Linked DNA regions of Homo sapiens. The protein of the gene in region 1 interacts with the protein of each later gene in a pairwise test. Each region holds a gene or a part of one and is shown in the gene's direction. Other genes may lie near its edges.

What was found.
Region 2: the proteins of TSNARE1 (region 1) and ELOVL5 interact in a two-hybrid assay, tested with the Homo sapiens proteins (one large-scale study listed by BioGRID).

Annotation. Positions count from the first base shown.
Region 1 is NC_000008.11:142,396,506-142,400,321, reverse strand, and holds part of TSNARE1 (t-SNARE domain-containing protein 1), read left to right. Parts: intron 1-3,816.
Region 2 is NC_000006.12:53,338,884-53,342,699, reverse strand, and holds part of ELOVL5 (very long chain fatty acid elongase 5), read left to right. Parts: intron 1-3,816. UniProt on the Homo sapiens protein: Catalyzes the first and rate-limiting reaction of the four reactions that constitute the long-chain fatty acids elongation cycle.

The DNA of each region.
Region 1 (3,816 bases):
GGGGCCTGCCACCACGCCTGGCTAATGTTTTGTATTTTAAATAGAGACGGGGTTTCACCATGTTGGCTAGGCTGGACTCAAACTACTGACCTTTAGGTGATCAACCTGCCTCAGCCTCCCAAAGTGCTGGGATTACAGGCGTGAGCCACTGTGCCCAGCCACTTCTTCTTTTTGGCCAGGCTAGACTCAAGCTCCTGACCTTCAGGTGATCAACCTGCCTGAGCCACACACTGTAATCCCAGGTGTGAGCCACCGTGCCCAGCCACCTCTTTTTTTTTTTTTGAGATAGGCGTGTCTCACTGTGTTGCCCAGTTGCCCAGGCTGGTCTTGAACTCCTGGCCTTAAGCCATCCTCTGGCCTCAGCCTCCCGGAGTGCTGGGATTCCCAGCGTGAGTCATGGCGTCTGGCTCCAGGCTTTTTGTTTTAATGCACACGGGCGTTTCTGTGGCTACTGGGTTTGTTTGGATGGTGTTACTTGCTACAAGTAGACTTTGACCTTGTGGCCCAGTCCAGCTGTCATTCATTGTGTTCTTTAAAGTCTGATTTGTGCATCGTCCATAGTAGCAGACTCCTGAGCAGCCCTCCTCTCAGATTCCTCTGCTTTCTGCTGGGATGCTCAGCCCTGTCTAAACATTTGTGGCATCTGTGTGTGGAGCAGTGGTGACCAAAAGACTAAAGGCAAGAAGGAGTGAGTGAGAGAGTTGGAGAGCTCATGGCCGGCGCTGTCCCTCCAGAGGTGACAGTCAGTTGTTCAGTGTGGATGCTTATGTTTGGCTCTGCTCTCTGTACTGAGGGCATCCTCATCCTCTCCCTCTTGGGCGCATTGAGGCAGCTGGGGAAGATCATCATTCCTCCTGCCCCCACGGTCCCCAGCGCCAGTGGTGGACTCTGTACCTTTCCACACCTCCCTGTCTGCCACCCCACCCGCGGGGAGCTGTGCGTCTCTGAACGTCCATCCAGCTGTGGCCCAGGGCCTGGGGCCCAGTGAATGCCCGATGGGGATTTGCTGAAGACGTGAGGGGTTGTTTCACAGCTGATCTTGAGCCTGTGCTGTTCTTATTCCACTATCCTTCCTGTTAGTGCTGCATGGTGGAGCCATCTGGAAGCTTCCATAGGAAGAGTTTTCTTGGTCTGAGTTCCCTGGCAGAGAAGAAGGGCACTACCAACAATGACAAGCCAGGTGCCTTGAATAGGTTTCTGAAGATGCCTTATGGGCGGGGTGTCCTCACCTACGGAGCCCAGTTGGGCGGTGTCTCCTGCAGGGGCCTTGCTTCGGGGTGTCCTGCTTGCCATCCAGGGCTGTCCTCAGAAGCCAGCTGTGGCTGTCCTGCCTGGCCTTATCCAGGCTATGAGATTCTCTCGTCAACTTGCGGCTTGCTGAGTCTGGGATGGGGGTGAAGGTGGCTCCGTGTGGGCTTCAAATCCGGACTGTGCTGCACAGGGCCCTTCCTTTTTTGTCCTTGGGTAGGTCCTGTTAGGATGTGAACCCACTTGGGGGCCACTGCAGGCAAGCAGGACAGTCTACTGGGTGTTCCTGCCTGGACAGGGTCATTGGCAAGTCCCCAGCCCCTGCCCCTGCCATCAGGGCTGCTGTCTGAGATGTGTAATGTTCTGTGAGACTATGCTAAGGCCATGCCTGGCATGAGTCTTGGGATGGACACAGTGGCAAGCAGGATCAGGCTGTCCTGGCCTTGCTCCGGACACTGCTGTGCACCTTACAGAGCAAGGTCGAGGCAGTGGAGTGAGGAGGTGGAGAGGGCACCTTACAGAGCAAGGTTGAGGCGGTGGAGTGAGGAGGTGGAGAGGGCACCTTACAGAGCAAGGTTGAGGCGGTGGAGTGAGGAGGTGGAGAGGGGAGCTGACTCTGCTGGGGTTGTGCTTTGGCAGGGCTGGGGATGTGCTTTGGGAGGGTTTGGGGGCATATTTTGGGGCTGGAGGTGTGTTTTGGGTAGGGCCGGGGGCATGTTTTGGGCAGGGCTAGGGGTGTGTTTTGGGCAGGGCTGGGGGTGTGTTTTGGGCAGGGCTGGGGACATGTTTTGGGCAGGGCTAGGGGTGTGTTTTGGGCAGGGCTGGGGGTGCGCTTTGGGAGGGTTTGGGGGTGCGTTTTGGGCAGGGCTGGGTAGATACCTGGGAAGAATCCTGGATGCTGGTGAGGCCTGAGCTGTGTCTGGAGAGCTGAGTGGCCTTAGCTGGGGAGGGCAGGAGAGGCAGCTACTCCAGGCAGCGGGAGGCCCAAGGGAAGGCACAGCAGTGCTGGACTCCTAGTAGGCAGGTCTGACTCGGGTCAGCCTGTGAGGGTCTTGGGAGGCAGGGTGAGGCCTGGGCTTTTCTGATGGCTGTTGGTGCTGAGCAGGGAACCCGGGGCCCAGGCTGAGGTTTGCCGAAGAGGTCTGGAGACAGGGCTGGGTGGAGCAGTGCCACACCGAGGGCCTGTGTCTGGAGCCTGCAGGGGCCAGGCTCCATGCCTTGGCACTGTGTGCTGGGTGCCTTGTGGTGGCTGCGCTGTGGGCCCCCTCGATGGATTGGTGGGCTAGCCACGCAGCTGAGTGGACTGGCAGCAGCTGCTGCTCATTGTCCTGGCAACCCTGGGCTTCAGGCTGCAGGCTCGAGCCCTCCCCAGCATGGAAGCCAGTGAGCAGAGCCAGGCACTCACGCTGGCCTGGGAGCCTCTGGCCCAGTGCTGTGGCCAGATCAACTGTTGTTTTCTTCCACAGTGGAAGATTGCCTCGTTTTCTCCCTCTGATTTGCCCTGTGGGGAGGGCTACAACCCAGCCCTGACTTACGTAACATCCAGGTAGGGACACAGCATTGCCACATCTTAGCCGTGGGACCCTGGCCATGTCACTTGGCCCCTCCAGGAGCCCTGCCTTTCCATGTCATTAGTCTGATCCTGCAGCCTCCTGGGAGGTGGGCAGCATTGTGTCTGTCCCAGAGACTTGGAATCTCCGGGCGTCTTGGGGGACATCACCTGAGGGGTGTAGGGAAGAATTCCCAAGGTGCACAGAGGGGCTGTGGAAGGTCAGGGAGTGCAGCCCCAGGGTAGGCGGAGCTGCCTCTCTCCTGTGAGACCCTCGGGCTGCCTCGCCACTGCCACACAGAGGGGCTGTGGAAGGTCAGGGAGTGCAGCCCCAGGGCAGGCGGAGCTGCCTCTCTCCTGTGAGACCCTCGGGCTGCCTCGCCACTGCCACACATAGGGGCTGTGGAAGGTCAGGGAGTGCAGCCCCAGGGCAGGCGGAGCTGCCTCTCTCCTGTGAGACCCTCGGGCTGCCTCGCCACTGCCACACATAGGGGCTGTGGAAGGTCAGGGAGTGCAGCCCCAGGGCAGGTGGAGCTGCCTCTCTCCTGTGAGACCCTCGGGCTGCCTCGCCACTGCTACACACATCACAGAGCTTGCTCTACCTGGTCAGCCATGGCACGGCCAGCTCGCACAGTAGACCTGAGCGTCAGGCTGTCTTGGATTCTGATTATAACAACACCTCCTGCTTTTGACCACAGGGCATCTGTCAGGCACCTGCTAGGCTCTTCCTGCTCCTCAGATCAGGAAACTTCCCAGCCTTGGGAAACTTACCTGAAGTCACGGGGGTGGTAAATGCCCAGCCATGACTTGAGCCCTGGTGTTCTCACCAGGATTCTGATCAGAGGCAGAAATCAGAGGCATTGCTCACCGTTCTGCTGCCCGGCCCACCTGGCGATCCTGCCCTGCTGCTCTCCAGGGGGACCAGGCTGGAAGCAGCTTTACAAACAAAAATTCCCTGTTGAGTTAGAGGATGTTATTAATAATGGCAATTACTGCACTAATAAAGACCTAATCCTGTC
Region 2 (3,816 bases), on another chromosome or scaffold:
TTAGTGCTGATACTGGCATGCTTTCTCTAATTGGGAGAATAACAATTTTATTGAAATATACCTGTGATTTTAAACTGTAATCTTTATGGTTATATTAGGTAGGCACCCTCTTGCGAGCACAGGTTCCATCTCTGTTAAGTTCCACATTTACCCCATCCTTTTCCTCATGTCAACAATTTCATCCTGTCAGAATTAATCTCTTATAAGCCCATGCTGAACAGACCTAATTGAAGCCATGCTGGCGAATTGGCCACTCAGGTCTGTGTTTTATGAGTTTCTGAACCCCAGAGTAGTACTTGTTCCTCTTTGGTCTTGGCACAGCAAATGCTACAACAAAGTGAGTGTTATGAATTTCTCCTTCCCTGAAGAATAGTTCTCATGATACCAAATTCAGTAATTATTCATTTGCTTCCAGGGGAGTTTGAAATGTGATGTATCTCCCTAGGGGTAGTATTCAGGGTACTTCTGCTTCAGTCTTTGGCAGAAGAAATAATACTTCAATATTTACAGAAGTCGTTGACGCCTCCATCAGCTGTATTTGTTAGAAGCATCTGTGTGAAAATTTGAGTTTGCTTCTGTCCGAACTTCTGCATATTAATCTCTGTGATGGATCTGAGGTGCATTTAAAAGAATACCTCCTGTACTTCTTTTAAGTAAGGACAGCTGTGGGAAGCAGATTGGGTTGGCAGCCTGCACCTATGCGGGGTTCCACCTCTGCCACTTAACAGCTGCGTGGGCTTCAGCAGGTAAGTCACTCTACCTCCTTGAGACCCTAGAATCTATGTAGAACTTGGAAGGTGATAATCCTGTGCCTACTTTGGAGGGTATTAAAACTATCAGTATTGTACATGAAAGTTAGGTGGGGCACTGACTTAATTTAATTAGCATAGTAAAAACGTCTCTCTGTTATATAGGATGTTTATTGAAGCATTGTTTCTAATAGCAAAAGATTGGAAGAGTTAGTAGACTAAATGTCCTTGAAAAGAATAAATCATGCTACAGCTGGGCAACGGAATATTCTGCAAATTTTAAAGAGAACAAAGCTGTTCTATGGGTACTGAATATAGCTGCTTGGTACCACATAATAGGCACTTTTCTGAAGTGTTCAACATGTATTAATTCATTGTGGCTTCACAAAAGCCCACGAGGTAGGGACCCCAATTTTACAGATGAGGAAACTAAGATAAAGGTTAAGTCACTTGTCCAAATATCCACAGCTAGTAGGTGGCAGAGGCAGGATTCAAACCCAGGCAGATTGGCTTAAAGACTCTAATCTTGGCCACCCTGCTGTGCTGTACACCTGTCAGACCTAAGTAGTGATCTTTGTATTTGCAGCTTTAGATACATGAGAGGAAACAAGGTTGAGTTTCTTATTCATCGTTACATTCTGGGAGGCTGACGGTATAATCAACATATAGCTTCTGTTGACAGTAACTAAATAAAGGTTTAGATAAAGAAAGCTAATAGGGAATAACATTTATGATCAATACTTGAAAGGGTGACCGTTTGTTTCTTCCATTACTCCTTATTTTAGATATTTTGAACTTAAACCTCTTTTTTGGGGAAAATCAGAAGCGTACACACTGAATAGCTTACAATTGTTAGTGTAAGAAATCAGTGTTCAAAAGCCCAGTTGAGTCAGTGTTCACTAGCCTGACTGGTCTAGTGTGGCTGGATTAGTATGACTGGCCAAGGGCATCCAGCATTGGTTTCCTTACCCGGTCCTAGCCCCATCTGGTTTGATTTACAAGGTATATACGCTCAGAGAAATGCAGACGGGAGGGAAAGACACTCACATTCTTTAGGGAGCCTCTATCTCCAGATTGCCTGATCTCCCTTGGGTGAAAATGTAAGTCAGGTGTACAAGTCGTACAAGTCATGTATAGCTTGACAATGGGAATACTTTTTGAGAAATGTACTCTTAGGCAATTTTGTTGTTGTGTGTTCATCATAGAGTGTACTTAGACAAACCTAGATGGTTACCACATACATAGGGCATATGATATACCACATTGCTCCTAGGCTACAAACCTGTACAGCAAGTTACTGTACTGAATACTGTAGCTAGCTGTAACACAGTGGCAAGTATCTGTATATCTAAATGAAGAAAAGATATAGTAAAAATATAAAAGATAAAAAATGATACAACTATGTAGGGCACTTGCCATGAATGGAGCTTGCAGGACTGGAAGTTGCTCTGGGTAAGTCAGTGAGTGGGGAGTGAATGTGAAGGCCTAGGACTTTACTGTACACTCTAGACTTTATAAACACTGTATACTTAGGCTACATTAGGTTTATAAAAAATATTTTTTGATTAGGTGTGGTGGCTCATGTCTGTAATCTCAGCACTTTGTGAGGTTGAGGTGGGACCAGGCATTTAAGACCAGCCTGGGCAATATCACAAGACTCCATCTCTACTTATTTATAATAAAAGTTTTTTTAAAAATATGTATTATTTTAATATATATTTTTCTTCCTTAATACATAAACTGTAGCTTATTGTAACATTTCTATTTTATAAATTTTTTAAACTTTTTTACTCTTTTGTAATAATACTTAGCTTAAAACACAGGCTGTATGGCTGCAAAAAAAATATTTTATTTCTTCGTATCCTTATTCTTCAAGCTTTTTTTCTCCTTTTAAAGTTTTTTAAACTTTTTTGTTAAAAACTAAAACAAACATACACATTAGCCTAGGTCTGTACAGGGGCAGGATCATCAATGTCACCGTCTTCCATCTCCACATCTTGTCCCACTGAAAGGTCTGTAGGAGCAGTAACACACATGAGCTGTCATTTCCTATGACAACAATGCCTTCTTCTGGAATACCTCCTGAAGGACCTATCTGAAGCTGTTTCATAGTTAACTTTTTAAAATATGTAATTAGAAGGTGTACACTCAATTAATGATAAAAAAGTATAGTATACCAAATACATAAACCAATGACATAGTTCTTTATCATCAGCATCAAGCATTATGTACTGTCCATAATTTTATGTGTGATACTGTTACAGGTCTAGCTATGCAGTAGGTTTATTTACACCAACATCACCACAAATGTTTTATTGTGCTATGATGTCACTAGGCAATAGGAGTTTTTCAGCTCCATTATAATGTTACAGGAGTATCATTGTATATGTGGTCCATTGTTGATTTAAAGGTCATTATGCGATGCGTGACTATATTTTGAAAACATTCTGATAGAGAATGACATTAAGTCATTTTGATACAAGGCCCCATTAAGGGCCACTGTGCTGGGCCATGGTGTTCAGGCTATAGACAAGTCTGCCACCACCTTCAGTTCTCTTAGGATCCTTAGACTCTTTCAGAACTGAGTTTTCTTTCTGGGTGTGGGACACTAGGTTTGGCAACATTGTAATGGCTATAAGTATCAGCATTCCTAAAATAAGAGAATCACAAAATTCATGGGGTGGCTTATATATTCACATGGAATCTGAACAGGTGATAAAACAACTGTTGGTTTCAGAGACATGCTATAGAGGAGATGAATACACAGTTGCTAGACTGTGTGTCCCTTTGAAAAATGCTGTATTGTAGCAGGATTTTCCCCCATTTTTTACACATTTAACTTTGCTTCTCCCTCTCCTCACTCACCCTCACACCCAAACAACAGTTATAAAATGTGGGCGTGTAGATTGAGTTTTAAAAAAGAAATGTGTTTTTGTGTTATATGCCTTATTTATGTTACACAGGCTTGAATTAAAATCTTTTAAGACATTTTCGTTTGGGGGGTTGCATAACTAATCTTTATTATGTTTCTCCACCGTCTTTTAATTTCAGCTTAAGGTATCACTGC